Linked DNA regions of Homo sapiens: all the other regions are linked to region 1. Evidence: fine-mapped expression QTL. A gene starts in region 1. Each other region holds a variant in brackets. All regions are shown on one strand. Distances are from middle to middle.

The links.
Region 2: its variant is fine-mapped to the expression of ABCC8 in thyroid (GTEx, PIP 0.96).
Region 3: its variant is fine-mapped to the expression of ABCC8 in tibial nerve (GTEx, PIP above 0.99). The same link has a PIP of 0.9 or more in amygdala and nucleus accumbens.

The regions. Positions count from the first base shown.
Region 1 is chr11:17,472,789-17,480,370 of GRCh38, reverse strand. It overlaps ABCC8 (ATP binding cassette subfamily C member 8), which reads left to right and starts at 3,526. Exons shown (of 39, transcript NM_000352.6): 1 at 3,526-3,742; 2 at 5,344-5,485. The coding sequence starts at 3,595. It overlaps LOC124902641 (a long non-coding RNA gene), which reads right to left and starts at 3,720. Exons shown (of 2, transcript XR_007062609.1): 1 at 3,640-3,720. RefSeq lists an enhancer at 4,314-4,870.
Region 2 is chr11:17,417,842-17,425,423 of GRCh38, reverse strand. All of the region lies in intron 16 of ABCC8 (ATP binding cassette subfamily C member 8), which reads left to right. Among named protein-coding and RNA genes, the nearest start is that of KCNJ11, 33 kb to the right of the region's middle. The variant A/G (reference allele first, on the strand shown) is at 2,837.
Region 3 is chr11:17,427,419-17,435,000 of GRCh38, reverse strand. ABCC8 (ATP binding cassette subfamily C member 8) reads left to right here. Exons shown (of 39, transcript NM_000352.6): 11 at 2,757-2,797; 12 at 4,042-4,187; 13 at 6,331-6,436; 14 at 6,596-6,712; 15 at 7,059-7,134. Among named protein-coding and RNA genes, the nearest start is that of KCNJ11, 43 kb to the right of the region's middle. The variant G/T (reference allele first, on the strand shown) is at 4,543.

The DNA of each region.
Region 1 (7,582 bases):
AGACAGGAGATCACTTCTCCCTCCCAGGTTCCAGTTAAGACATTTTGTCTCTACATCAGTCCTCTCTTTCACTGGTTCTACAGTCTTCCAAGTTCCCCTGTGGATACAGGCTTTGAGCACCTGAAGGAGACAGGAAAGGACACACCTTTCCCAGTCAGTAAGGGTCACCCGAACTTAGGCTCTGTACTTGTTCTCCACTATTCCATAGTATAGGTCACACCATGAGTTTTGCTTTTGTCTGTTTTTAACCAGGCCGCTGTTGATTGTGGTTATTGAAAGGGTTTATTTCTTCAACTATAACCCCACTCCATTACGTCACCATTGTCATTGTAATGACCCCCTCTGCCATGGTCACTGGAACACTGGCACTCCTAGTCAGCCAGATAGAGACAAAGGCACTAAGGCCAGAACAACATCAGAGCTGGAAGGGACTTTTTGTTTGTTTGTTTTGTTTTGTTTTGTTTTGAGACAGGGTCTCTCTCTGTCGCCCAGGCTGGAGTGCAGTGGCCCGATCATGGCTCACGGCAGCCTTAACCTCCCTGGCTCAAGGGATCTGGAAAGGACTTTTCTGAAGCTCTGCACCAGCCCCTTTACTGCACCCTGCCTGAGGCCACACCCACCCAGTAGCCGGTGAGTGTGAGAATCCAATCCCGGAAATCCAGCCCTAGTTTTCATTTTGCCAGGAGAATGGCTGGGAATTCTCAGAGCGGGGTACCCTTGCTCAAAGCAAGCTCTCAGAGTCTGACCTTCTTCCAGCCCCTAGCAAGAGAAACAAAAGGCATGGCTAGAGGTGGGGAAGCACCAGAGACCCAGCATCTCCCCGACAGAGGCAGACGTAGCCCTGTTACAGACATGAATGATTTTGTATGCCACACACCGCTCTGCGTCTGTGTCTTGGACATCTTCCCCTGCCAGTAAGCATAACTCTATTCTCTGCGCTTGCTCCACAGTATCCCACAGTACAGACAATATCTGTTTTTTGTCTGTTTGGGTTTTGTCTGTTTGAACCAGCCCCATACTGATGAGCATTTGGGTTGATTCCAGGAATACAACCCATATACTACAAAGGAAGTCCTTTCATGCCTCCGTGCGCACCTGACTCCACACTTTTTCAAAGTAATTCTCCCACCCACATGGTGGGCAGTGTGGTGCATGTCCTCAGTGTAGACCTAGGTGCAGGGAAAGGTGGAATTTGTCCACAGTCACACAGTAAGTTTGTGCTAGAGATGGCAAACACGAGTCCCCAAGACTCCAGACTTAACACTCTCTTAGTCCCAGTTGATGCTCCCTTAACACCAGACTTTTTGTTTGTTTCAAATGACCCAGAATAGGCAAGTGTGAGGGTTGCACCAGGCAATGTGGGGTGAGGGAGAGACCATTAAATAACCCTGATTGATCAAGGGGCTGCCGTGTGTAGTCACCCATGGGATGAAGTAGCTTGGACTATCTCCCCAACTTGCAAAGCACATTCATACCCATGATCTCATCTTAATCTTCTGGGTTCCATATTATTATCTTTTCCATTTAGAAATAAGGAAACTGAAGTGCAGAATGGTAACCTGCCCCCAAATCACACAACTAGTAGTAGTAGAGCCAGGACTAGGAGCCCTGTTCTTTAAAAGTAAATATATTATTACTGCTAAAAAGAAAGATAGCATTGCTGAAAGTGTGAAAAAACTGAAATTGTAACTACAAAAGAAAATAACAACATTGCAGAAAATATGAAAAAAAAAAACCTTGAAAGCAAGAAAAACAAACTAAAAGAAAAAATCTTACTGGGTGACCATGGACCTGTCATCTCATCTCTCTGAACCTCAGTTGTCTCATTTTTAAAGAAAGGGAATGAGGATAAGCACAGCGACGGCAGCCAGTACATACTGAGCACCGCCTTACCAAATTTCCAAGTCTGACCTTTCCCTGCAGGCTTCATGCAAGTATACATATTTCGTACGGCTATAATCATGGGAAGCACAATTTTGTTTGCCGTTTTTCACCTGACACTATCTTGTAAAGTTTTTCTATTGACTACACAGACTCAGCTAGCACCGTCCCAGCAGTTGCATTTTTCAAGGTTGATTAACCCCTGTCCCTGGTGCTGGATATTTCTTGCCACCAAGTTTTCACTATTTTGGCTGATGCTGCAAGAAACATCTTTTGGCTTCTGAGAAATTCTCCAAAGTCAGAGACTGAGGCATTCAGACCCTGAACTCCTGCTTTCCCAAGGCTTTTCACCCAACCCCATCTGCCCTCTGCCTCAGGGCCTGGGCAGAGCCTCGGCCTTGCTGACAGCGTGCTGGAGAGGCTCACCAGGCTCAGCAGCCTCAGGGCAGGCTCAGTGAAGCTTGTAGGCAAAGGGGCTGAAGGGGTCTTTCTTTTGTGTTCCCCTGACTGTTCCTAAGAACATGTGCATTTATGCTTCATACCCTAACTAGGAAAGTTCTCCTTAAATCTAACCCCCAAATCCCATCTTCTGTTCTTTCTACATACAATATAAACTTCTTTGGGCCACAGTCTTGTGAGAATCTCTCCAAAACGTATAGGAAGACATAATGTTGTCTTTACAATTGCACGGTGTCCTCCAACTGTTAAGCCTGTCCCAGGTGAGGTTAAGAATTTCAGTCCCTCTCCACTGCCTCACATCCATCTGGCCAGATGCGTTTCTTAAACTCCTCTTTATCAGCCTGGGGCTGTCACCCATTCTACCCATTGGTCTGCCAGTCGCTGTAAGGTTGTCATGTACCAGAGGCATGAGTACAAATGATGGGGGTGGGGACGGGGGACCTGAGGAGCTGGGTTCAAGCTATGCTTCCCTGCTTGCTGGCACTGAGACCTTGGGGGAAGTCATGTTACTGGCCTCCCTTCAGCTCCCTCGCAGCTTGGGTTTCCCCATCAGAAAATTGGAAGCGATTAGAACCTGTACTTAGCAAGAGTTCTGGGACATCCCTTGTGTGAAAGTGCCAGATACGCTGTAAAGCAGTACCTAGGAGTGCCCCACCTGGGACCACTTTTGAAAATGTCCAAGCCCCACCCCACCACCACCACCACCACAAGGTAACGTTCTGCCCCACTTTTCTCATCCATGTTGGGTGGAGACTTGCGCCATCCCTCGGCTCTCTACATCCATCCGCACCACGCCCAGGTGAACTCACACTCGGGACCCTGAACCCGCCCACTCCAGGCCTTGCGGGCCCTTCTCTCCTCTTCTGCACGCCCCACCCTCCTTTCCCACCCAGACTCCAGTGTGCCCACACCCCACTCCCCATCTTAGCCTGCCTTTCCCCTCTCCCCCAGCGCACGCGTGCATCAGGGCACTCACGAAGCCACCCCGGCAACATCTGGGAGCACGCGCCTCCACATCTGGAAGGTGGGCGCAAGCGTAGCAGGGCCGGTCGGGTTCCTCGCCGCCCCCCGGCCCCGCAGGTGGTGGAGCAGGGCGGGGTGAGGGAGGGGGAGGCCAGCGGGGCTGGGCGGGGCCCGGGGGGCGGGGGCCTGACGGCCGGGCCGGGCGGCGGAGCTGCAAGGGACAGAGGCGCGGCAGGCGCGCGGAGCCAGCGGAGCCAGCTGAGCCCGAGCCCAGCCCGCGCCCGCGCCGCCATGCCCCTGGCCTTCTGCGGCAGCGAGAACCACTCGGCCGCCTACCGGGTGGACCAGGGGGTCCTCAACAACGGCTGCTTTGTGGACGCGCTCAACGTGGTGCCGCACGTCTTCCTACTCTTCATCACCTTCCCCATCCTCTTCATTGGTGAGTGCGCGCAGCGAGCCGCGGAGGAGGGGACGGGAGAGCAGGGAGGGAGGAGGAGGCGCTGCGCGCCGCACCGCTCGGCGTCCCCTTCCGGCCCGCGACCGCCGTCCGCCTCGTTCCCGGGGTCCCCTGCCCTGTGTCCTGCCCGCCGGTCCCCGCACTCGCACACCAGCTCATCCCTTCACTCCCCCGGTGCCCCCGATCCCGCGCCAAACACAGCGGACGTTTGTGACCCATGGGATCACCAAGTTTTGCTTCTGCAGGGCCAAGAGCTGGGATGGGGAAAAGGGAAAGAGGAGGTCTCAGCACGCAGTGGGAAACTGGAGAGGGGTCGGGCCTCACCCTCCGTGGCGCAGCTTAGGGAGCCGGGTCACCCCTCCCGCAAGGCAGCCTCCCTGTCAGCCGCAGCTGGGCCTAGGGAAGAGGGAAGCCTGTGCTTTGGAGTCTGGGATGGAGGCCCAGCTAACCCCTATGCTTTCACCGGGCTGAGCCGCGCAGTGGTCCGTGATCTCTGACAGTCCCAGGCCCGCGCCCTGGGCGAGGAGAGGCGAGAGCTAGGGACTTGGATTCCCTTCCCCCGCCACCCCACCCGGGCATGTGTCTCCAGAGCGCAACTTCTCAGGCTCTGCGCAAAGTAGCTCCGACTCGCCGACGCAGCGACCCCGGCGCCCTTGCTTGCAAAGTTGGGCGCCACGGCCGGGACAATCGTGCGTGCCTCTCCACTGAGGTCCCCCCCATCTCTCTCCAAGACCTTGACTCTTCCAGACCAGTCAAGTCTATCAACTCATAGGGTGTCCCCTGCATCCCCAAAACGTGTTCATTCACTTTAAGAAAACAAGCAAATCTTAAAATTCATATACAGCTTTGGGGAAGAAAGGAAAGATTGTCACAAAATTAGATTTACAAGAGGTTGCTGCAGAAGCAGAGTTGCTAGTTATTAACAAAGACAGTTAGATAGAAATAGAAATAAAACATACAAAATATGTGCTCATATGTGCATCAAAAATCAAAAAAGAACAGCATTTACACTTCTGTTCTCAGCCAAACGGTTTATTAACCTGATGACTTGTCACACAAGAAGTTAGTATGTATAATGGGGTACCTTGGCAGGGCACAGTGGCTTACATCTGTAATCTCAGCATTTTGGTGGGCTGTGACAGGAAGACTGCTTGAGTCCAGGAGTTCGAGACCAGCCTGGGCAACATAGTGAGACCCCCCCCGCCCTTTCTACAAAAAATTAAAAATTAGCTGAGCATGGTGATGTGCGCCTGTAGTCCCAGCTACTCAGGAGGCTGAGGCGGGAGGATCACTTGAGCCTAGGAGATCAAGGCTGTAGTGAGCCGTGATCGTGGCACTGCACTCCAGCAGAGGCAACAGAGCAAGACCCTGTCTCAGTAAAAAGGTGTGGTGGGGGAGGTACCAGCATAGGACCAGGCTGAATGAGTTGGACGTTTAGTTTGTGTGTACCAGCCTTGGGGATCCTCATGTGTAGGTGTCACCCTCACCATGGACCCAATGCCCAAGCACCTTTCTGGGGTTCATGCACCCTCTTCCTCCTCCAAGTGGGCAGGCATCCTGCCTCTGACTGTCTCTCCCTGCAGGATGGGGAAGTCAGAGCTCCAAGGTGCACATCCACCACAGCACATGGCTTCATTTCCCTGGGCACAACCTGCGGTGGATCCTGACCTTCATGCTGCTCTTCGTCCTGGTGTGTGAGATTGCAGAGGGCATCCTGTCTGATGGGTGAGTGACTGTCTGAGGACTCAGGAAAGTGAATCTGCTCCAGGGTACTTCCTGAAAGGCCCAAGGAGATCCTAGCTCACCTATATTCCACAAGCCCATGTCTTTTGTTACTACATCCAGCAGCTCAGTGTCTTCTATGTGCCAACCTCTCTGAGCTGGGCACTGGACGCAAGTGAGTCCCAGGCCCTGCCATCAGTCCAGGAGAGCAGAGGGAACACGGACCTGCATGCCAAGTCCCAGTGAAATAATGCTAGAGCCTATTAGAATGCCACAACTCCAGTGAAAAATGTCTGGCCTCTTCTACAACCTGCCGGAGTTACCTTCTTGGAAAAAAAAAAAAATCTAACCATGCCACCCACTCTTGCATAAGACCTTTCCTTGGTTCTCAGCTGTTTTGAAGATGTGGTCTCAGATCCTCAGCCCACCATTCAAGGTCTTCACAGTCAGCCCCACCTATCTCTGGCCTCATTCCCCATGCCCACCTTCCGTTTGGGCCTCACAGCACACTCCTCACACCTCTGCTACAGCACAGATCACACTGTATGTTAAAGTTTATGTCTATTTGCAAAACTGTCTTCAGAGTCAGAAAGGCCTAAGAGTTAGAATCTGAGTCTTGTTCATCTTTGTGTTCACAGTGCAAGGCATGTGATAAACATAAACATTATTCAGTCCATAAACATTTATTGGGTCCTTAGGAGAATGAATGAAACCATGTTACAAATAAGTACTCTGGGAGGTGAGAGGAAGGCAGAATTGGGCAAGCTCCATGGTTGAGAGGGCTTTGGAGCGGAGTCTGGAAGGGTGACTAGGCTTCAGACACACAGAGGAGGAAGGAGAGAGAGAACTGGTGGTGCCTGAGGGAAGGGAAAAGGCACCAAAGAGAAAAGCAGGTAGGGCTAGGGAGCAGCGCAGGGGCTGGAGCATTAAACACAGGCTGGGGAGCGATGGAGGCTGAGGCTGGGAACCCAGGTTGGGGCATCTCAGGAGGACTGTGAATCCCAGCCTGCATGTTTGGGTCGGATTTGGTCAGCAGTTTGGAACAGAAGAGAGATGTCATCAGCATAACACTTTTAGGTGGGAACCTGAGGTGTTCAGCGCAGGCTGGAGGCAGGGAGAATCTAGAGGTATAATAGAAGCAGGACTTAGCATTGACTGCAGTAGTCTAGGTGAGCAATAACTGCAGACAGAAATGGTGTGTCAGCAGTCAGGGACAGAAGAGGAGCGGGAGCAGCCATCTCACTAAGGAAGAATCCAGTAACCAGCAAGGATGAGAGACTGCCAGGAGAGGGAGTGGTGGAGGAGAGGGATATTTGGCTTGAGTATCTGAGGTCCAGCGCCCCCTGAGCTGGAATCAGATTATACCCAGACTGCACTCCTGCAGTGCTGCCTGGCTCCTGTAGTTGGATGGCAGGGGATAGGCTCCCTCATCCTCCCTCCCGTTCCCCACCTTCCCTTCCCCAATGTCCCTGCATCCTGGCTTCAGCAGTGATCTCTAAAATACCTGCTTGACTTGGAGGCAGCAGCTCTGCCTGCTTATTAAAGTCCCTAGACCAGCAAGAAGACCAGAAGGCATACTGCTACACAAGCACGTGACAAGTCCGCCTCCACCCCCACCCCTACACCCCTTCCAAAGTAGCACAAATGCCACAGTGAGCCCTCAGATGGGAAATACTCACCAGATGGTGACAGAGAAAGACACCTCCGCCCTTGGAGAAGGAAGACCTGGGTCTTCAGTGAGCACTGCTGCTGTGTACCAGCTATGGGACTTTGCACAAGTCATTCAGGCTTTCTGGGCCTCATAAGCATTTATAAACATACGATAAAACATTTTAGTTGCCAACTTAAAAATGTGTGAGAAAGTATAAGGTGTTTCAAAATTATTTCAAGGAGTAAAGAGGCAAGAGTTTTGAAGATCCCTGGGCAGGGTGTTGGCTGTTCCCAGTGTGGCCATTCATGACTGCTCTCTGGCCTTATGAAACAAGCATCATAGTCCCTGGCTTGCCTGCTTCATGGGGCTGTGGAGGGTGAAATTCGAGCATGGACAGGGTGCAGAGCCCGGAGTGGCAGAGCACTGGGTAGACTGTGTATTCCCAGAAT
Region 2 (7,582 bases), 55 kb after region 1:
TCATAAGCATGAGTACAGAACTGAGCAGGGAGAAAGACTTTGGGCCCAATGTCTGAATATCAACATGCACCCCCGTTTCCTGCATTTCCAAGATGTCCCTGAATGGTGTATCCAAAAGATGGCAAATTTCCCTCCTCAGTGGGGTCGTGGGCTAGCAGATGAGCCCCTTGGGTTTCCCATCACCTCCCATCAGGGACTGTGATGTCTTTGGGGGCAGAGGGGTCTTTGCCTCCATTCGCCATTTTATTTGGGAGATTTTTCAACATAGCCTGACTGGGAAGGCCCAGGTATTCGGTTTGAGATCATATTGCCTTATTCCGACTGCCTCTCCAGCCTTTGGAGGGAGGAGCCCTTTTCTGCTGTCCAACTGCATGCCTGCAGCAAGAAGACAAGAGTCCCCAGTGCACTGTGAGCTGAAGAAAGTAACCAATATTTATTGGGTACCTCCTATGGGCCATGCCCTTTGCTAAGTGCATTGTCAACATGATCTCATCAAGCCTCCTACTAAGTTTAGGAGGGGAGTGTTGTTACCCCATTTCACAGAAGCAGAAACTCAGGCTCAGAGAAGTTGGGTGACTTACTAGTCAGTGTGTGGAGCAGAGACTCTGCCCATGTTCTTTCCCTCAAACCTGGTCACTGCTGGGGCCCCCAGGGCCTAGTCCTAAGGGTTATTGTCCAAGCCCCATGTAGTGGTCAGGCTGGATCTGGGCTCTCCTCCAAGGCAGGGCTTTTCCAGAAGGATTGCAGGGCTCAGACACTGGAGCTGCCCCTGCCTTGACCTGCTCAGCATGGATGTCAAAACCCACTCTGAACCTGGTCCCTTTGCCCTGCTTTCTTCTCCTCCCCCACCCTCATGCCCTCATGTGGCATCGTGCCTGCCTCAGGAGCTCTCCTTGTCCTATGTAGATGAAGCAGGCATGATTGGCAGGGGTCTGCTCTGCCCTGCCTCAGTCCCCACCTCTTCTCCAAGCTGTGCCAACCCTCCGGGTCTGACTGCTGCCCCTCTCTCTTAGGAAACCTCTGCCCCAGCCCAGGGAACACAAGGAGCCTCTCCAAGGCAGAGGACCCTAAGCACTTCTTTTTTTTATTATTTTTTATTTTATTTTAGGTTCTGAGATACATGTGCAGAGTGTGCAGGTTTGTTACATAGCTATACATGTGCCATGGTGCTTTGCTGCACCTATCAACCTGTCATCTTTTTAAGCCCCACATGTATTAGGTATTTGTCCTAATGCTCTCCCTCCTCTTGCCTCCCACCCCCCGACAGGCTCGGTATGTGATGTTCCCCTCCCTGTGTCCACGTGTTCTCATTGTTCAACTCCCACTTATAGTGAGCACATGTGGTGGTTGGTTTTCTGTTCCTGCCTAAGCACTTATTATAGGCCAGGCACTGTGCAGGCACCTCATCATCTCAGTCAGTCTGCACCGAACTCTGTGCAGTAGATATTATTATATCCTCATTTATCAGATTAGGAAACTGAGGTGAAGCAAGTTGTCCAAGGCCACCCAGCTGTTAAATGGCAGAAGTGGGATTTGCACCTAGGTGCTCAAGTGCATTGGTTTGCCACCATGTGCTCAAAGAGAAGGGGCACAAGAGCCTCATGAAGAAGGCATAGCTAGCCTGACAGTCCAAAGGCCAGCAGCCGCTGTGGCCATGACTCACACACACCTGCCTCCTCCCAGAACTGCCACGTGGGTCCTCACAGCTCTGTCCTTATCAACACTTACTCTCCTTTACAGGTAGCCTAGGCCCCAGCTCCCAGCTCTGTTCGAGGCTCGCAGAGGGGCGGTAGTGAAGGGGTCTCATTTCTCCAGGATCCTCTTTGCTCTCTCGCCCGGTCCTGGTCCAGCTTCCCTTTCAAGCATAGTGAAGTGCATTTGTTAGCTTGCAGCCAACCCTGGGAAATCATGAGAATTTGTTCCCAAGTCAACTCATTCTCCAGCGTCCACAGTGACGTATTCACTCACCCAGTTGAGCGCCTAGTGTATACTAGACCCTGTGACAGCAACAGGAGTGCAAAGGTGACTAAGACGTGGCCCCTGCTTTTTTTTTTTTTTTTTTTTTTTGAGACGGAGTCTCGCCCTGTTGCCCAGGCTGGAGTGCAGTGGTGCGATCTCAGCTCCTCACAAGCTCTGCCTCCTAGGTTCAAGCGATTCTCCTGCTTCAGCCTCCCAAGTAGCTGGGACTACAGGTGTACACCACCATGCCGGCTAATTTTTTGTATTTTTAGTAGAGACGGGGTTTCACTATGTTGGCCAGGGTAATCTCGAACTCCTGACCTCATGATCCGCCCGCCTCAGCCTCCCAAAGTGCTGGGATTACAGGCATGAGCCACCACCCCTGGCCGGCCCCGCTTTTAAGAGAGGGGAGAGAAGACCTGGGCCTTAGAAGAGCTCAGAGGAACCACAATTGACTCTGCAGTCAAGGAGAGGAGGCTCACTGCGGATGTGGTATTTGAGCCTTGAAGGATGAGTGTGGTTTCATCAAGTAGAAAAGGCAGGGATGGGAAAGGGAGGTGGTCCAGGCAGGGGTGATGGTGTGGGCAAAGCCTTGCTGATATTAAAGAACATAGTTCTGTGCACCTGGAACACTGGATGCATGGGGTGCATTATGAAAGATGGGACTGAAGAAGTGAACTTGGCTTAGATCCCATGTAGTAGGTCTGAGAAGTAAGATTTAACCCAAAGGTTGCAAAAGAACCATGCTTGTGATAAAGGATGATGGATTGGGGAAACAGAGAAAAAGACAGACAGACTGTAGGAAGGGAGGTATTAGCAAATAATCATAACACAGTGTGAGGTGTGCATTAATATTCACTCATTCCAAGTATTGATC[A/G]AGAAGAGAGGTAGGTACTGGGTTAGGAAACAGCTTGGGCAAATGCATGGGGAAATGAGAGATGTCAAGATGCATTCTAATGGCAGCCTCTTGAAGATCTTAAGTTGTTTTTGGTTCACTCATTTCGCAAATGAATTCATTTAGCAAAAGCACTATGGATACAGTGCTTACCTCTAGGAAGTAAGTTTTAGCCCAAATGCTGCAGAAGGATCATGCTTATGACAAAGGATGATGGACTGGGGAGAGAGAAAAAGAAAAGACAGACAGACTCCAGGAAGGAAGGTCAGTCTGCAGCTCCTTATAGTGGCTAGGAGAAGGAGTCTAGGCAGATACGACTCAATTAGCTTCATCTGCTGTTTGTCTCTCAAAATCTAGACATGTGCACTGCTCTGGCTGGCCCACCTATCCTGGGCATTGAGTTAAGTGTGGGGGCTGTGTGTTGAGAGTCCCCCTCCATTACTGGCAGGAACTCCACACCTCAGACATTGAGCCCCAGGTCTGCAGGGAGAAGACGTGCTTGCAAAGTGAGCTAAAAGCAAAACAGCCTCTGACCTGGCAAGCATTCCCAAGTCTGCACGCCTGCAGCCAGAGGAGAGGGTGATGCCAGGCTGCTGCTCAGATGCTTTTCAGCCATACCCAGGCCAAGACCTGGTGACCAGGCAGCCAGAAGGAGTTCCAGGAGGCACAAGGCAGGAAGTTGGGGGATTAGGAGGTGTAGAATGGAGAATGCTCTGGGGAGATGGGTGCTTTGTTGGTGCAACTATTCGTTTATTCCTCCAGTGACCACGTGAGCAGTATGGCTGCACACACAGGCTCTGCAGCCAAGCTGCCTGGGTTCACATTTGGTCTCTGTGCTTTGGAAAATTTCATAAGCTTTCTCTACCAGTTTCCCTTATTACCCATGAGATTGATGTGAGGATTAACCTAGCATGTAGTAAATATCCTATAAATATTATTATTCAATAGTGTACTTCTTTGCCAGGAACAAAATTCACCTGTTCCTCTTTAAATGTCCTCCAGTCTGTCTCCTGGGAAAGATTCTTGTGAGCTCCCTGGGGACAGGGACCATATTTTGTTTGTCTCACTGTATCCGTAGTGCTTTTTGCTAAACGAATTCACTTGCTAAATGAATGAACCAGGAACAACTTAAGACCTTCAAGAGGCTGCCATTATAATGCATCTTGACATCTCTCTCCTTTCCACATGCCTTTGTCCGAGCTGTTTCCTAACCCAGTATTTCACTACCCCTCTTCTCCATCAATATTTGGAATGAGCAAATACCGTTAGTGCATACCTCACATGGTATTATAATTATTTGCTAATGCGTCTGTCTCCTCCATGACTCTGAGCTCCTTGAGGGATTATTCCATGTTGTACCCCAGGTGCCCCATGCAGATGTGTATTTTGTGCACTGTTCTGTGTAGGCTACAAAGGAAAAGGCCTAGCACCTGCCCTTGGGGAGCTCACCCACCCAGGATGGACAGAGGTGTGCAGACAGAGCTGCAGGGTGGGCACAAAGGGTCCATCTGCTGAAGTCCTGCAGATGCAGCCCCGAGCTTGTCCCTCACGTCAGCAGCCTGGCTCCTGGTCTCAGAGAGAACTGTGTGGTTCCCAAGCATTCACTTTAGGAAGAATCACTTGCCCCTCCCTGGCTCTCTGCTTCAAGGAACTGTGACAACCTTGGGATTTGCAAACTCTCTCTTTAATCCTTAAGAGGAAAATGTTTTGGTAAAAAGTCAAGATTAGCAGATACACTCGGGTGAAATTCTTTCCCTGGAAATAAAGAATAGAGCCATTAATATCCACAGTAGAGTGACTTTAAATGCCCCCGGGGGGTCAGCAGGAACCAGGGCCCTGAGGAAAGGATCAGCGTGGGGAAGAGGCTCCCACTTCCCTGTGAGGAGCTGCACATGCAGTCTCACTGGAGCTCCCTGCTGCAATGCTGTTGCCTGTGGTGGTTGGTGTGGATGCTGCCTGCCAAGAGCCCTGATTCCCCAGGAAGAGAGAAAAAGGCTTCTCTCAGGACGGCCCTGGTCGCATCTGCCTGTACAATTCCTGGAGCCTTTGGGGAGCTGAAGTCAGGGGCTCAAGTGCCCCTGGGTTTCCTGGAGGAGGCAGGTGTGGTGAGACAGCTGACAGACAGGAGAAGGGATGCTCTGAGGAAGTGACTGTCCAGCCATGGGAACCAGATGGCCCCTGGCTGTAGTCCTGATGCTGCCACTTGCTAGCTCTGTGACCTTGAGCAGGTTACTTCACCTCTCTGAGACAGACTCACTGTCTGGACAATGAGTAAAACCCTACCTTTCCTGTCTCAGAGATTTGGCAATGGGACCCAATGACATCAATTGGAAAGGATGCTGTGGGTGAAAGGTAACCTTTCAGGACAGCGACAAGCCTGTCTGGGCAGGATGAATGGGCTGTGGAGCCCTGTATATCCTAGCTCACTCTTTGAACCTCAGTTTCCACTTCTTCCCTTTTTATTTATTGCCGGGGTCTTAAATGAGTGTTGGGGGTATCTGATTCTCCCTCTGCCTGTACTTTTGGGGCCAAGCACTGAGCTGAAAAGACAATTCCTCCTAGTTCTCCAAGCCTACAACCTGCCCCCTAACCAGCTGTGAGCTGTAATACATTCTCCAGTGTCACTGTGAGGTTTGTGCCTTCACCCCCATTTTATAGATCAGGAAACAGAGGCTCCTCCAAGTAAAGGAGCTTGCCTCAGATTTCACAGCCAATGAGTGGAAAAGCCTCTGGGATTCAAATGTCAGAGCCCATATTTTTCCTACTTCTCGCACCTGTTATCATATGCTGCCTCTTCCTTTAACCTGCAGTTCCCTCCCTTCACCTCCACCGTCTCAATCCTTCCCACTCTTTAAGGTTCAGTTCAGCTATGACTTCTTCTATGAGGCTCTACTCATTTTCTCAGATTTCTTCCTCCTCCAAATTTCTTGTAAAAATTATGTTTTTTCTCTGATTCTAAAAGAATGCACATTACATTAGAAAAGATACACAAGCATACAGAAGATAAAAACCACCTAATATCCCATCACCCAGAAGCTTCCAGTTTTTCTTTATGCATTTGCATATGCATTTGTGTTTACTTTTCCCCAAAAGTTCTCCGATACTTTGTCCTACTTTTCTTTTGACCCTTATAACTTCCTGACTTCGGTACCTTTCTGATTTGCCCTACCAGAGTGTGAGCCCCTGGAAGGCAGCCTCTGCACCCTGATTCAGGTTGCCACACATATGCCAGCTCCTAGTGGGCTGGAGGGAAGGACATGCGGTTGGGGAACTGGAAGACTCATGCTTTCAGCTGTGTGCTTCCTCCCTAGAGTGCAGGCAGAGGAGGAATCGAATCCCCTCAGCACTCTTGTAAAGACCACAGCAATGAGTGAGAGATGGTGCCTGCCAGACATACCATTCTTTACTTTTCAGCTTAAAACAGATACAAAGTTTGGGGAGGCTCACTGGAGGAGGCTTGGGGCTACACTGGAAAGAGAAGAACTTGGATTCACACCCCAGCTTCCCCTCTTCCCAGCTCTGTCACATTTGCAAACTCTGAGTCTCAGTATCCTCATGTGTAAAATGGGGATAGGGTTTATAGGGTTGTAAGGATGAGATGATGAGTTGTTTGCAAACAACTTCTCACAGTGCACAGTGAAGGTCAGCAATGAGAGCCAGCCCCGCCCTTTCTTCTTTCCAAATGATTAATATATCTGTTACCAGCCTCCATTCATTATATAGCTCTGTCATGTGCTAAGCACCATGGGGGCTGAAAAAGATGTTCTTCCTGCCTTAAAATTCCACTGGGGATGAACAAATTACACGGGAGCTGATCAGAGAGGAAGGCAGTCCATTATGAGGGCTAATTGAGCAGTGCAGACCATGTTGCAAACTGAGTTAGGGCCTGGAGAGCTTACTGTGTGCTGGGGTCCTCAGGAATGCCACAGATGCATCAATAACCACCTCTGCTACTCTGGAAGTAGTCACATCAGGAAGACTCCAGAGATAAGCTTATCTGGGCTGTGGCCACAGAGCTGGAATTTGTAAGCTTTAGGTTTCTATGTCTCATGTTACCAGCTTGTCTATAAATTGTAAATTACAGCCATCTGATGGTTAGGGAATATGAAGTTTGGTTAAGAGAATGAAATGAGACCACGAAGATTAGAGAACAGGAAAAGAGGGGACTGGGGACTACATACCCATCAGAATCTTCATTCAGTCCTGACCCTCAGCAGGAGGGGGATTTCATCAGGCTCATTTCCATCCTTGATTTCGTCCATCCTGGTTCTCCTGACAAGGGGCATTTATCAGAGTTATGGCATGGGAAATCACAGGGGAGTAATGTACCATGGCATTTAAGAGTATGAACGTTGGAGTCGGAGCTATTTTCTCCGCTACTTACTAGCTGTGTGACTTTGGGCAAGTTACTTAGCCTTTCTCTGAGCCTCACTTTCTTTATCTGTAAAGTGAGGGCGATCAGAATAAACCTCCTTCATATGGTTATTTTGAGCTTTATAAAGAGACAATACTGGCTGAGCACGGTGGCTCACTGCCAGTAATCCCAGCACTTTAGGAGGCCAAAGCTGGAGGATCGCTTGAGCCCAGGAGTTGGAGACCAGCCTGGGCAACATAGGGAATGAGACTCCTGTCTCTACAAAAAATATACAAAAATTAGTCAGGCATGGTGGTACGTGCCTGTAATCCCATCTACTCAGGAGGCTAAGGCAGGAGGATCGCTTGAGCCCA
Region 3 (7,582 bases), 45 kb after region 1:
ACACACACACACACACGCGAACACACGCAGCTGATGATTCTACTCTCCCAGCCCCAGCCCTGAAGGGGACCCAGAACTCCCTGCACAAAGGCTGTCCTTCAAGGGGAGGGTGAAAGAAGTGGAAAATCACATTTTCATTCTTTAGCGTCTCCATACAACAGCCAGAACTGGGCAGAAGCTAATTATATCAGAAGCATACTCCATGTTGCTGCATCAGCTTTGGGATGTTCATTTTTAAATTTATTTATAGCTTGTCTCATTCCTCAAAGGAGTTCAGGGAGCTACAAAAATAAAGACAATAAAATTGAAAAAAATTAAATTAAAAAAACCATGACCAGGGAAAATGTGCAGTAGAATGAAGTGTCAATTATCACGTTTTCTGACTGCAAAATCTCCCCCACGGCTGATGCACCATCATTTACTACAACAGCCCCTCTTGTTGGACATTTCCAGTTTATTTCGTTTGGGATGGTTTGTTGCTGTTGCTGTGGTTGTGGTTTTGTTTTATTGAATTTTGTGTTAGCTGCAGCTAATACCATCTTGCTGATGGCTTTGCGCTGCTCTTGAATGATTACTCAGGATAAATTTCCTGGAGACGGATTATAGGATCAGAAGGTCTGAACTTCTGTGTGGCTCTAGCTACAAAGCACCAGATTGCTTTCCAAGAGCGTTGTAGCAATTTATAATCCAACACTCAGCCTATTTTTTGGCTGGGAGTCAAGCCCCAGAATGTGAAGGAGGGGTCTTGGCCTGGAGCAGGGGCTGAGGGATGGGTGCACAGGACCCCTCCTTATTGGTTATTTATGGGGATGGGCCAGGAGGAGCAGAATAGAGGCCCCTGCCCTCCCAGTTGCTCCTTGGAGTGACTGACCCCATAGGGGAGGGGCGAGGCTACCTCACATTTAGAACTATGTAGTTGGTGATGGTCAAGGTCCTAGGTCTGATGGGCATCCTCCTCCCTCTCCTCCTCAGCCAGTAATGGCTGCACTATGTCGTATGTCCTAGATCTGGGTCCCTTTTGCTGTGGGAACACCAATAATACTTACGCTGTTTCCTGCCGGAAACGGTGCAGGAGGGCTGTGGCATGGTAGTGGGCCCTGGAAACCATCTAGCCTTCATGAGGAAGGGCAGTTAAAGCACAGGCATGTATGATGTTGGTATTGATTAAAAGCCTCACGGGCAGAGAAATTCGCCATCTGCCAGGGCCCCAGCCATACGAGGGCTCCAGCCATACATCCTCCAGGAGACTGGGACCTCTCCAATTGCAGGAGCCTTGCCTTCCCCATCAGATTAGGAATTCCCCGAGGATGGGGACAATGTCCTTCCCACCTGCTTGAGAACTCCTAAGGGGCATGTACTCTGTCTCCCCATTGTATCTGGAACTTCCTGGGAGCATAGCTCCTGTCTCCGTCCTCAGACTGGGAATCCCCTAAGGGCAGAGGCCATGTCCTTCCACCCACTTGGGATTCCCTGAAGTTGGGGACCACATCTCTGATGTACAATGCTTTGTATGTACTGACTGCTGCAGGATTCTTGGAGTAAATGGGCAGTCAACTTCTTGGACTGGTATTGACCATCTGGACTTCATCAGAGTGTCCAAGACTTTGCCATTCATTAGACAGGGGCCATGTGCACAGGCAGAGCCCTGGCCTCTGGCTTCTGGCTCCTGACTCCTGGTCCCTCTGCTTTAATTTGGCTAATGGCAGAACCAGACTCCTTTCTGGGCTGCCCTGGAAGGGGATCCTTGAATGAAAGAGGATAGATGGGAAGGTGGCAGCTGACATGGTTACCTCTTATGCCATGGGGGGGCTGCTCTCTCTGGAAATTTAGGCCTGGGGTCAGGGCACTGTTGAGCATTTTACACCCTAGGCCAGAGGAGGGGTGACCTGTGGAGCAGGGCTAAGCTAGTAGCCCATGAGGTATGATGTGTAGGCAGCACCTGGGGCTCACAGAGCCTGTTACCCATGTTATCTCCTCTGACCTTGGAAAGAGCTGGGGTGTATGAACAAGTATTTATAAGTTTACAAAAATCATATGAGGAAACTGAGGCACGGGGAAGGTAAATGACATGCCCTAGGTTACACAGCTTATAAGTAGCAGGGATTCTGCCCTTCTGTCACACCAAGTCCCACTGTCTTTTCTTCCTGGAGTCCCTGTGACTGATCTAAAGGCCACATGTTTAACAGAATAAGGAGGAGGCCTCTGTTGCAGCAAACCAGCTACCCCACCCGCACACAGACTCTAAGGGACATCCTGCTTTAAGCTGTCCTTAGTTACTAATACCTCAGTGAGAATGAGTTTGAAATTTTCTCAAGAGCCATGGGAGACTAGGAAGTCTCTAAGCTTCATAGAGAGCCTGGCTTGGGGGGACACAGGAGCCAAAGGCAGAGGAAGAAGTGGCAGCTTTGTGCCCCCAGAAACACGTGCTCCTGACCTCACAGTTGGCCACAGCCAGCCAACTCTCCCATCCTTCTCCCACCACTTTCCCGTGGGGCTAACTTCACCCTGTCCACACGGAGTGACTTAACAGTTTAAGCCCCAGAGTCGGGGGCCGGGGTACCTGGGACAAGAGTCCTGAGGGAAATGGGGTGAGGAACTGGAAGTGCCACAGGGCTAGAGTTCTGCCCCTAGCCTACTGGAGCTGTGCCCCACAGGCTGGCCCCACTGGACTGCGCTGCCTCCAAGCCATCCTGGGCATCTCCATGTGTAGCTGTCACGCTCCTCCCACTAAACGCCTCCCTGTGCTTCCTCTGCAGTTTTCATGAACACGGCCATCCCCATTGCAGCTGTCCTCATAGTAAGTGGATCCTTTCTCCATCTCTTGGGGGTAGGGTGGAGGGGGAGGGCGTCTGCAGTGACAGGCTGCCCAGATTTGGCCTTTCTGCACAGGGGCCTCAGAAGACAGGCTCCACAGCCAGACTGAAAATAGGATCGAAAGTTTATAGAGGGTGTGGCCCCTCCCCAACTCCAGCCGAACAGGGGCCTCTGCCTCCAGGCCTGGAAGACCGGAGGCTTAGTATTTAGAGAAATTAAACTTTCTTTTAAAAAATAGCTATCCAAATTTTTAATTTTTAAAGTGAAACATGTGTATTGTAGAAGTGATGGGAAATCCAGAACAGAAAGCTCAAAGAGAATTAAAATCACCCATAATCCCACTGGTAACATTTTTAATGTGTTTCTTTCCAGTCTTTTTTTAAGGCCTATGATATGTCATTTTCTACAAAAATAGGAATGTGCTATGCATGCAGTTTTGCAACCTGCTCTTTTAAATTTAGGAATATGCCACACACAATTCTCCATGCCACTGAATATTATGATGGTGGCTTTCTAAAGCAATTTTGATAAAAGCTGTGTGTGAGCTGAGCCATGGGGGTCAAGCAGCATGCTCCTACAGAAAGGCCTGGGCCCCTACGAGCCTGCAGCCCCCTCACCCAGCCTCCCATCCCCATCTTCTGTGATGGCTGCAGTTCCTTAAAAAGATCTGCTTATTTCCCCCGGGGCCAGTGTCCCTGAGCTGTGTAGAGTTCACAGCCTGTCGGATACACTTGGGAATTCACTTCCAATGTGATGTATTGAGCTGGTTCCTGGCCTGGCTCCTGGGGGAACTGTGGGTAACAGAGGCCACTGAGCCAGCCAGGTGGCTGGGGCAAAGCACTGTGCAGTTTCGTAATCACTCTGTTTACGTTATCCCGATGAGGACTGGGGAGATGAGCACCCCGCCTGCTGTCTGCAGAGGGGGCCGTGCTGACCTAACCCGAGATCTCCTCCCTGCTTATTCCCAGCCAAGACTGGGCAGGACAGGGAGTCTTGGCCAGGACAGGGAGGGAGCAGCCCCTGCTCTCCAGCTTGAAGTCCTGAACTTGTTGGGGACGTTTCCATGAGATGACTGTGGGGATGATGAAGGTGTCTCCAACTAAAAGATCCTCTTAGGAGCCTGCTCCCTGACAGCCCTCTCATTTCCCTTCCAGTGCTGAGCGTTTCCAGTGTGGGAGGGACCCACACCCTGGGCCACCCTGGCCTCACTTGTGCCTCTGTCCACAGACTTTCGTGGGCCACGTCAGCTTCTTCAAAGAGGCCGACTTCTCGCCCTCCGTGGCCTTTGCCTCCCTCTCCCTCTTCCATATCTTGGTCACACCGCTGTTCCTGCTGTCCAGTGTGGTCCGATCTACCGTCAAAGCTCTAGTGAGGTGAGGGGAGGGTCCGGGCGAGGGCACTGGGCAGGCAGGTCCTGTGTCAGCCTCAAGGCTTGCTCGAGTGATGGCCAAACCACAGCTGTTTGGTCCCGGAACACACCCCCATTGCTGGGCCTTGCTGTAGCTGGTCCTGGTTGGTCAGAGGGACATTGGCCTGTATGGTTTCCCAGCTCGCCATCCCTGAGCAAGGACTTGCTTACATACCTCCCAGGAGAGGGGACTCACTGTCACTTTCACGACAACTTAAAAAAAAAAAAAAACCAGTGTTGAGCCAAATGTGGAATCCTCCTAAATTCTACCCACTGGTCCTAACTTCACCCTCCAGAGCCACCAAGAATGAGGCCATCCC[G/T]TCCCCACGTGGCTGCCCCATGGATATCAGAAGGCATCCACTGTGTCTATCTTTCCCAGGCCAAGTATCCCCTACCCTTTCCACAGCCCCTGAGCCCTCACAGCCTCAGCCAGTGAAACAGCTTCCCCCAAGCGCTGGGTCCTGCTCTGATTGGCCCACAGCTCTTGGAGGCTCCCACTTCCAGGCTCTAGAGCCTCATGGGGACTCTGCCACTGTCCCAGAGGCATTGCCCTCTTGGGAATGAAAGCCTGAAGGTAGAAGGCTGAGGCTTTGGCTGGGAAATGCCCTGTCTGGAGTGAGAAGATGTCCTTGGGCCTCTGAAGTAGCTCTGCCTCCTTGAAAGCAAGAGCCTGTCATGCCTCTATGGAGGGCTGGCTTGTCCTTACCCATGGCCAGAGAACCAGTCAGTAACAAATGTCCTCTGTGTCTTCAGCCTTGAGGAAGGTGACACCCCTGTCTCATGGGACCCTGGCAGGTACTGGGAAGCTGGAAGGAAGGAGTAGCTGTTGGAATGAAGTAGCTGATAGAGAGGGTAGCTTGCAGGGGGAGACTCTAGCATGGGTTCAAAGATGGAATGGGGCATAACTCAGCAAAATTATGCTCTAAGGAGTATCTGACCAGGCAGTAGCTGGTTAAACAGGGATTAGCTCCCATTTCCACAGTCGGCTGTGCTGACTCAGTTTCTTGACCAGGGTGTTGTGGGGTCTGAAGATCACCCCTCCTCCCACCACCCACTCTCCAGCCCTATGATTCTGTGTAGAAACCACAGATTTAAGAACGCTGCACCTGCCTGAAAACTGTTGCACTGATCCCAAAGCGTTCATATTTTCAAACACTCTGGATCCCACTGTTTCCAGGAATGGAACACCAGAGTAGCAGAGGCCTTTTCAGTGAGGCAGCTCAGGCTCTGGCTGAAGGTGGGCGCAGGACACTACCTGAAGCTTCACCCCAAGAGATGAGGGCCAGCTCCACTCTTCCCAGTCACCGCCTGTGGGGGAGGGAGGCTGGACAGGGCATGAAGGCAGAGCCTGGTGGTCTGCCCCTCCCATCTAGGGGTGGCGCACAGAAAGGGAGACTCCAGGCCACAGCTCACTTACACCCCAGAATAACCTTGCCTTGAGGGTGGGATGGCTTGTCTGCCCCAGGCCTGTTGGACATTTAGCAAAAGAGAAGAAAGGGGAATACAAACAATCCTGAGCTTCCCAGAAAGCTTTCACACCTCCAGGATGGGAGAGAATGAACTAGAAGAGTGAAGCTTCCAGTGCTTCCTCAGGTCCACAGGGAAATCTGGACAGGGGAGAGGGTAGGAATAGCCGCCTCCCCCGTGAGTAATGACACCTCCTCCAGCAGGCTGTTATGGGGATCCGATTACATAATGCTACAAAACAGTTAACACAGTGTCTGGCATTTAGTGTATGCTCACAAAATACTAGCTATTGATTCTTTACCAATCCTAGTCCTAACTAACCTTAACCCTGACCAATCCAACACCAACCATCCTTCAGTCTAATAACCCAGACTAACTAACTTCAACATTAACCCTAAAACTAACCAATCTCACCTCCAATCCAGACCCCAGCCTATTCCAGCTGACTGGTCAACCCTAGCAAACCCTGGTAACACCAATTACCTGCCCCCATGCCCACTGGTCTGCCCCCTTCAGTGTGGGCTTTGTGGGACTATACTTCAGGCCTGAGATCCTGCTCAGAGCTCTCTATCAGGCTGCGCCCTCTCCCCTCCCCTCTGCCCCTGGCAGGGGTGAGGGGTGTCTCTGTGCTTCCCGAGCAGCGTGCAAAAGCTAAGCGAGTTCCTGTCCAGTGCAGAGATCCGTGAGGAGCAGTGTGCCCCCCATGAGCCCACACCTCAGGGCCCAGCCAGCAAGTACCAGGCGGTGGTGAGTGCCCGGCCTCCCCTTGCTACTCCCAGCATGGTCCTCTAAGGCCCAAAACTTGGGCCTGCTGTGTCGGACTTCTGCCTTTTTTCCCAGGAAGAGGGGCTCCCTTCCCTACACAGCTCCCAGCCCAGTGGGTCCTCACCTCCAAACCACCCCCAGCCCCTCAGGGTTGTGAACCGCAAGCGTCCAGCCCGGGAGGATTGTCGGGGCCTCACCGGCCCACTGCAGAGCCTGGTCCCCAGTGCAGATGGCGATGCTGACAACTGCTGTGTCCAGGTGAGTCCTGCTGCCCCATGCCTGGCCACCCAGCACCAACTCCCAGAGGGAGCTCAGCACCTGGAAAGCCAGAAAGCTGCATGCTTAGTCCTCTGCAGAGGTCACCCTGCCTGCCTGTACGGTCCATAGGAGTCCAGAAACCAGGGACCACCAAGTGGGGGGACCCCCAGCCTTAGGCAAGGGTCAGCATGAGAAGGCCAGTCTCCCACTCCCCTGCTCTGGAAGTGATCCAGGGGCTGGAATCAGTGTCTTTTGGCTTTCATGGAGGAGGGGAAGCCAGAGACTATTCACTGGGAACTGGCTGCCTTTCTGTTCTCTCCTGGGCGGTGGGACACGCCTAATGAAGATCATGGGAGGCTACTTCACGTGGACCCCAGATGGAATCCCCACACTGTCCAACATCACCATTCGTATCCCCCGAGGTATGGCCCAGTCCACCCCTCCAGCATGCCCCTCCCCATGTCCCACTGAATAACATAGAGATAAAAAGACAAAGCTGCATTTATTGAGCACCTACTCTCTGCTCATTCTTGGTGTATGCCCTGGGTATATTATAGAAGGGGAAGGCTACATTCTAGAGGCTTCCGTGTGCTGGGTGGGAGTGAAGCACTAAGGACAGGGTAAAATTGCCAGCCTTAATGTCAAACCATCCATTGCAGACAGTATAGGTAATGCACAAAAAGATCAGAAGTGGGTAGCCAAGGAACGCAAGTGGAAGTGATGGGGTTTCTGAGAATGGACAAAGGCCCTGAGGCCATGAGGCAGGAGGATTTTCTGGCAGAGGCAGCCATGAGCAAAGTATGGAGGTGGGTTGGAGGTGGGACCCAGGATGGTGTTTCTTGGGACCACAAGGAGCCTGGGCTCATACTA